Homo sapiens: one gene and its partner. The protein of the gene in region 1 purifies or fractionates together with the protein of each later gene. This does not show direct contact. Each region holds a gene or a part of one and is shown on either strand. Other genes may lie near its edges.

Region 1 (3,811 bases):
GCCACCCTCACTCTTCCCCATATGCCAAGTCCTTTGAGATTTGCAGAGTACTTGGGATTATAGGAATGACTTGGGCTCCATCAGTCTCCTGGGGGCTGAGTATGTCAGTAAGAGTACCTGTAGTGAGTAGTCAGAGGATAAAAATGAACTTTCTATACCATAATACACTAGAAAAATCAAGTTTTTTATTTTAAAATATTTTCAAAGGCTAAGGCCATAGCAAAACAACCCAAGGGTGGTTGAATCAAACTCAGGGAATTAGAGGAGCATCAGCCAATGCAAGCAGGTCTATATAAAATACACATCATTTATAAATGCACACAGCAGAAAGCACAGTGGCCCCAGAGGACCAGGCAGGGGGACAACAGAGAGAAACAGAGCACTATCTGGAGGGACAGGCACACCCGCAACACTCAAAGCCCTGGGCCCCAAGTGCACCTCCAAAGTCACCTACGCTGCAGCATGGCTCTTGCCCTTTCTGAGCCTGGGTATAGCTGAAGACCAAGTTCACCAGCATCTTGGCACATCCACCTATAACTGGCACCTCTCATGGCCTCTGACAACCAAGCAAGGCTCAGAGAATGGATTTTTATCTCTGTCTTTCAGCAAGGACCAGGGAGAAGTGCTGAAGCAAGAAGGGTTATTTTCCTAAAAAAAAAAGACGGATGAAAGGGTGAAAGGGGCTGGTTCCAAAAAAAAAAAAAAAAAAAGGATGACCATTCATGGAACAGTGAGTTTCACCTGAGACATACAGATTTGGTGCAAGCAACACAAAAGGCCAGGCTCTAAATTTCATCCTAAAAACTGGGATGGGGAGAGCATGAAGAGACCACTTACTGGTAGTCCCTCCAATTCTCATTTGGGTTTGTCATAAACAGGACAGACAGTCGTCTGCTTCACAATAAATAATTTCCACCTGGATTTCATTCCCTGATTAATCTCTCAGTGTCTGAAGAGGGGAAAACAGTGGCTGCTTCTGACACCGCCCACCCCATCACCAGCAACTTTCCCTGATACTTCTGGCCTCCTCACTAAGCCCTTCCAGAACCTCCAAAGCCACTATCTTAGCAGATGGGAGTCCCAGGGCGATGAGGCCAGAGTTGTGGGACACAGAGAAGAAGAGAAGGCCTTGATAGAGGAAGAGGAATATCCAAGGCAAAGCCACCACCACGTCCAACCTCCTCATCCTCTACCTTTCCTGTCCCCAGAGGTATGAGATAGACCCCCTGGCCTGGTTCCTGCACTGTGCTAGGCCCACAGTGGACACTTCCACCTTAATGGAGAATAGGCCCCATGGAGTGGAGGTCCCTCCTCCATGGCCTGCAACCCAATGACTATGGGGGTGACACAAGTGACCTCTGCCCTGTGATGGCTCAACACCATCACACGCAACTGTCCAGACAAGCCCCCCTCAACGGGCTGCTGTTGGCCATGCCTGAGATGCGGGCAGGCAGGCAGGGAGTGGACAGCAAGACCTCAGATCCAAGCCTCCACCCTTCCCTTCCCTATTTCCAGGGCTTGGGACACCTTAGAAATGTTTGAGCACACAAGGGCAAAACCCAGTACCAGGTCTGTGACCACAGTGATCAAAGGCCCTGCTCCACTTGTCTCACCGGAAAGTGACAGCTGAGGACACAGAATTCAGGTACCTCTGTTCTTCACAGCCACTGCCACCATCTCCGCCGTGGGCAGCATCTCCCCATAATGCAGCCAGCCACCTCATGAGGGGCCGGCACAGAGCCCTGGCCCAGAGCATGGAAATTCATCTCTGGCTGGAATCCTGGCCATGAGCCCTCCCCTCTGCATTCACAGATTCTCAGCAGGCCCCTGCCCAAGCCTGACAGGTGCCTGGCTGCCCGCAGAGAAGCCCTGTGGGAACACAGAGTGTTGGGAGGGAGCAGAGCCCACATGGGTGGTTTGTGTTCTGACCTCTGACCCCACCATAGGAGTGAGCTGTGTGGCAGAGCCACATTCCAAATGCGAAAGCATGGCCTCTGTCCTTTGAGGTGGCCTCCAGTGTTCTGCCTGTGTGCCAGAACTGTTTCCAAGGACCCAGTTTGTTTGTTTGTTTGTTTTCTCTAAGTGTTTGCTGAAGCTTTGTGTACAGAATTCCTCAGTTGGTTCCAAAAAATCTGGCTTTTTGCTTGAGTCCAAAAATTGTAGAAGCCAGTTACTTTGTAAACACGTACTTCAGATCTCTCATAGAGGGAAGAGAAGAGCTGCGGGGAGGAGGAGGGATCTGGAATATTTTCCTTCATAGGCAGTCTTAGCACAGCAGCAGCATAAACCACAGGGATCATTGGTGGAGACTTAGCACCCAGAACATTCTTCTTGGAGAAGGAATGGGGACAAAGGCCAAGTGGCTGTTACCTGCACACAGGAAAGATGTCCACATCAGGGAAAGGGCCCAGAATGCAGACGGACGTGGGCAGAAGGGCCAGTGATAACTTTACTTCCCCCAAGAGTGGGCCAGGGTGGGACTGGTGTACCCTGCACGCTGCCCAACCTTGCTTAGGGTCAGAAGCCAGCTCAAAACAGGACCAAGTCCAGCCAGGCAGCCTGGCCTGAGGTTCTTGGCTCCTGTCCTCAACCCTCAATATCAAAGGCATTAGAAAGAGAAAAGGCCTCACCTGTGCCCAGGGACTGGGTCATCCCAACTCAAGGAGCATAACTGCTGCTCTAGCCGAGAAATACGGAACGCCAGGTAGGATGAGGACATGACCAGGAAGCAGATCCTGAAGAAAGCGGCAATACGGAGTTAAATATTTCTTCCACAGAAAGAGCATTTCTGGAAGTTCACCGGAAATAGTGGGGACCAAGCTACCCCTGCAGTTGGAAGAATTAAAGAGCCCTTTGTCCTGCAGCCAGTTCAGGCCTCAGCATCTTTCTTCCCAGACACCATGTAGGGGTCTTCAGACTTGTCCCCATGGAAGTGTCCTTACAGCCCAGCTAGAGCTCTGGGCCCTTCAGCTGAGCTCTGGGGGGAGCTCTGGCCAGACAGCCAGATCAGTCATCCTACCCTCTCTCTCACCAGCCATGGTGGTCCTTCCTGTGCCTCCTCTGGGAGGTCATGATGATGACCCCCTAGGCGGTGGGCCCATTCCCCCAGCAGGTGCTGATGTTGATGGTCAAAACCCGGCCAGCCGAGCCAGAGGAGGCTGATGAGCTAAGGTGAGGGAAAGCAGGGGCTGGCTGTTCATGTCACTTCCCACGATGCTCCCTGCTCTACTGGTCCTTAGACAGAGGTAGAGACAAGTCAGGGGTTCCAGAAGCTGCCCTAGTGGTGGGCAGTGGCGAGGCCAAGCTTTTCCTCTCTCTCTCCAATTTTCCTGGCCCTCCTTCTCCCAAATCCTTTTCCTCTTCTCAACATCTCCATATCCTGCCCCTCTCCACCAAATAGTCTTAACCCTAAATTACAGGGTTTCAAGAATAAAAACTGGAGATCCTTTCTCTTGCTACAGAAGGGCGTGCCACATGGCCTTCAGATACCACCCAAGAGCTTGAATTTGACTCAGAAACTTCCCCCTGGTTCTGAATAGTGAATTCCCCACACTCCAAGGCCCTTGTTCCAAGCACCTAGACATGCAGGTGGGTCTGTCCCCCTCCCCAGTATAGTCACTTACAGCACAAAGAAGACCTTGAGGAGCCGGTAATCCCAGAGCCTCAGCTCCCCAGTGCTCCTGGGCTCCTCCTCCAGCTCATCCTCCTCATAGACAGCATTCTTTGCAGTGGGAGAGCAGTTCGGCATCTTCTTAGGGCAGGCAGGACCCCAGCCTGGCATGGGCCATGCCCACCTCCCACCATTTTCTGA
Region 2 (3,811 bases), on another chromosome or scaffold:
GTGTGGGCTCCCAGGGGCTGCAGGTCACTGCTGCCTCCTCCTCCCCTCCCATCACAAAAGGCAGGTTTCCCGAGAAGCACTGGGCGCATGCCTCCGAGTGAGGGGCCTTGGCTCACAGGGCAGCGGCTGGGGCAGAGCTGCTGGATTGGTGAGTCCATTGGGAGCCCCCAGCCTTGGGTCAGGCCCATACAGAGCTTGGGGTGGGGGTTAATGCCACTGTTGAATGTGCTTTCTCCTAGTGACCTTCAAAGGGAGATGAAAGTTAAAAATAATTTTGGTGGGGGAAATAGCTGGTGGATAGCGGGCCAGTGATGGGGGTGGGCAGGAGGATGTGGCACTGTCGGGGGGAGGAAGCAGACCAAATGCTCCTTTTCCCTCAAGCCGCAAGGGACGGACAGCACTATCTGTGGCCTTTGTGGTTGGCATTTCCCCTGCAGTGTCTTCCTGTTAGGAGTTCTCTCAGATAATAAGCTGCAGAAGAGAGCAGGAGATGGAGCAGGCACTGTGTGCATCGGATTGAAACTCCTAAGTGTCTCTTGCACCTGCCCCAGTGCCAGCCACAGCCCAGGCCTTCAACGCCCTCCGGCCTCTTATGCTGGAAGTCTCCTTAGCAGATGGCCTCATGGCCAGAGCTGGCCTCCTGTGAGCTCTGTTGCTGCCCTAACTGCAGTGCCTATCATCTGAGCCCCTCTCGCGAGCCACCTTCACTCGCTAAAGTGAATTTAGGCCGACTTTGTTTTTGCTGTGTCTGGCTTGCTATCTATTCTTTGTTATGAGTGATCTCAAATATGCCCTATGATCGAAGAGTTCTGAGCAGAGAGAATTCAGCAGCCCTTCAGGAGCCACATCTGTCCTTACTTTAATTACCCCTCTGTGACACTGTGGGCCTGCTTTTCACTTGCCATCCCTGACCTAGGTCCTAAGATATATGTGATCTATTTTATCCCAGCCTGACAACTAGAGATAATTCGGTGTAATCACATGCTTCCTGACAGCAACTGGGGCATGAGAGCACAGGTGGTCAGGGAGTGTGGGTGGTGCCAGGCTTTCACAGGGCACACACTGTGGTCCACGTCGGCCCCTCTCCCAGATGATATGCCACTTTTACTGTCTTGTGATACTTGGAAATAGTATCACAAGACAGCCTTTTTAAGGCTTCAAAGTCTCCTTTTGCCAAGGATGGTGATTAGCTTATCTTAGTCCTCTGAGAACAAAGCAAAAGGAAATGACTACTATTAAAATAGAATATAAGAATGATGTAAAAAAAAAAGGGCTTCTTGCAGCAAAATTATAAAAGGGCTGCAAAGTTCTAGAATTTCTTTTATTGATGCTCTGCAAAACACAGGCACTGGGCTCATGCCTCCCAGCGAGGGGCCTTGGCTCACAGGGCAGTGGCTCCCCAGGCGGAGTGTTCACAGGTGGCCCAGATGTCTCATTGGCCCTGCCCTTCCTCAGCCTGCGCTCCGGACAGACTGGGCAGTGTGCGGGAACCACCCTGCGTTTTACTGCCTCTTGTTCACACTGCTCCTGCATCCACCTGAACTGCCCCAGATCATCTTGGCCGGCTGCCTTCTTCAGGGTCCCTGCGAATATTCCTCCTTTAGGAAACCAAGCTAGAAGATGTCTCCTTCTCCTTGGAACTCCCTCTGCACTTGACCCGTACACTTCTTAGGCCCTGGCCGCTGTCCTTGTTGGATGGACTGCAGCCCCTCAGGGAAGGTTTTCATTCCAGTCCTCCCTGTGTTAATTGAGCACCTGCTACATTCAAGCACCGGGCTCGGTACTGGGGATTCCTTGAGTGAAACAAAGGTTCCTTGCCCTCACAGAGCTTACGTTCTCTACTAGAAAGGTGCGAAAATGAACAGGCAGCTATAATACGGTGTGATGATTACAATGACAGGAATGAAGGGGATGGGGGAGCACATGGCAGGGCCCTATGCTGGCTTGGGGTTTTGCAGACTTTCCTTAGGAAGTGACAATTAACTGGATACCTGAAGGATGAATGAGAGTTAGCCCAGTAACCTCACAATGCTGTCTCGAATGCAACCACACAAAAAGATTTGCTGTAGAAATGAGTAGGTGCCTTTTGTAGCTATCCCAGCGTGAGGTCTGTGTGAGAAGTGGCATGCTTTTCATGAGGAAGGGACCTCCTTGGTCCCTCCACCTCCCTCCTCTTCACCCCCCAGAAGAAGTTGGGTGGGACAGGCTTCTGCAGCAAACAAGGGACCCCCTCCCCTCACAGGGACCAAGGAGGACAGAACTTGTCTGAGCTCTACAAGCCCAGATTGAAAATAGAACTGAGAGAGACAGGAGCAGTGTGAGTGACAGGCATGTGCTCTGATTGGCTAGACAGAGGAATCTGAAATATGAGTTTGGAGCGGGCACATGACTTAAATATCCTCTGCTGGGTCAGCTTCCCCTTGCCCCCAACCCCAGCTGCACACGTGGGCCCTGAGAAGCGGACTTCTGGTTCTGTCAGAGAAAGATGACCCATTTTCAAAGAGGCCGCCCCATGAGCCATTCGCCATTTCGCTCTGCACAAGAGACATTTCCTGTTTGGAGTTCTGCTATCCGAACTTGGTCTTGCATTGGCGCAGATGTGGGCACACCCCAGGGCCCTGGGAGTTCAGAGCTGCAAGTGAGGCAGGAGGCCATGTGGCCTAAAAGAAAGAAGTCAGGCCCGGGTCAGCAGCCCTGGATTCTGGTCCAGGCTCTTTTGCTGCTGCAGTGCTGTGACATACTGAATTTGTCCCTTTTCCTCTCTGAGCTCAGCAGTTTCATCTGTAAAATAATGGAGAGGGAATCATATTAGGTGATCCATGAGGCTGGCCCAGCTCTGGTATCGTAAATGTTTGTAGCCAATACAACATCCCTGGTTATGATAGAAGGATGCCCTTGACTGGCCCAGCTCTGGTATCCTAAATGTTCGGAGCCGATATAACATCCCTGGTTATGATAGAAGGATGCCTTTTCTTAGACGTGAGGATGCGTCCCACGGGCTTCAGCACTGGGTCTGCTCTGTGGAACTTCCAGGCCGAAGGCTGGGGAGGGTAATGGGGCAGCATGGCTGCAGGAGTCGAGCTCAGTGCCTGAGCCGGGAGCTCGATGCGGGAGCTGTGGGCTGCTCCTCCTCCCTGCTAGGAGCAGGTGCAAGAGGCCTGCAGAGTGCTGGGGCTGGGCACGGACCTCACAGTGCCATGAAGCCTCGTGCAGCTTTGAATTTCACTTGTGATTTCTTCATGGAACTTCAAAGCCCTAGCAATGTAGGCGCGTAGTCAATTATTATTTGAGTAAGTGACTGCGTGCAATGGCCCAGGATAAGGGGGTTCTGGAGAGGGCAGTCCGTGCTCCTATTCTTTCTCTGTCTTCTTTATTATGATTTTTGCTTTTTACTATGAAAAATTTTAAGCCTTCAGAAAAGTAGAGTGATATGCCACCCATATACCTATTATCTAGATTTAAGAAGAAGAATGATTTTTCCATCTGTTATTTGCTGTGTTTGGGAAGGATTTTAAAGTACAGACGTCATGACATTTTACCTCTAAATGCTTCGGATGCAACTCTAAAAAATAAGGATGTTTTCATACTTAACCACATTTTTATGAATACGCTGAACAAAGCAAATCAGTTTATTTGTCCCCCAAATATTTTGATTTGTTCAAACAAGAATTCAGTCAGAGTCCCCATGATGCGTGTGGTGGTGCTTGGTGGTGCCTTAGTTCCTTTGACATGGGACAGCCCCTCCCAGCTCTTCATTTCTCATGAGTTGAAAAGGCTGGGCCAGGCCCGATGGCTCACGCCTGTAATCCCA

Evidence for each region.
Region 2: the proteins of GRAMD2A (region 1) and TUBA8 purify together in Homo sapiens (affinity purification with mass spectrometry; one large-scale study listed by BioGRID and IntAct). This does not show direct contact.

Annotation. Positions count from the first base shown.
Region 1 is NC_000015.10:72,159,643-72,163,453, forward strand, and holds the end of GRAMD2A (GRAM domain-containing protein 2A), read right to left. Parts: coding exon 3,624-3,811; intron 2,736-3,623; coding exon 2,631-2,735; intron 2,371-2,630; coding exon 2,367-2,370; 3' UTR 164-2,366; downstream 1-163. UniProt on the Homo sapiens protein: Participates in the organization of endoplasmic reticulum-plasma membrane contact sites (EPCS) with pleiotropic functions including STIM1 recruitment and calcium homeostasis.
Region 2 is NC_000022.11:18,113,714-18,117,524, forward strand, and holds part of TUBA8 (tubulin alpha-8 chain), read left to right. Parts: intron 1-3,811.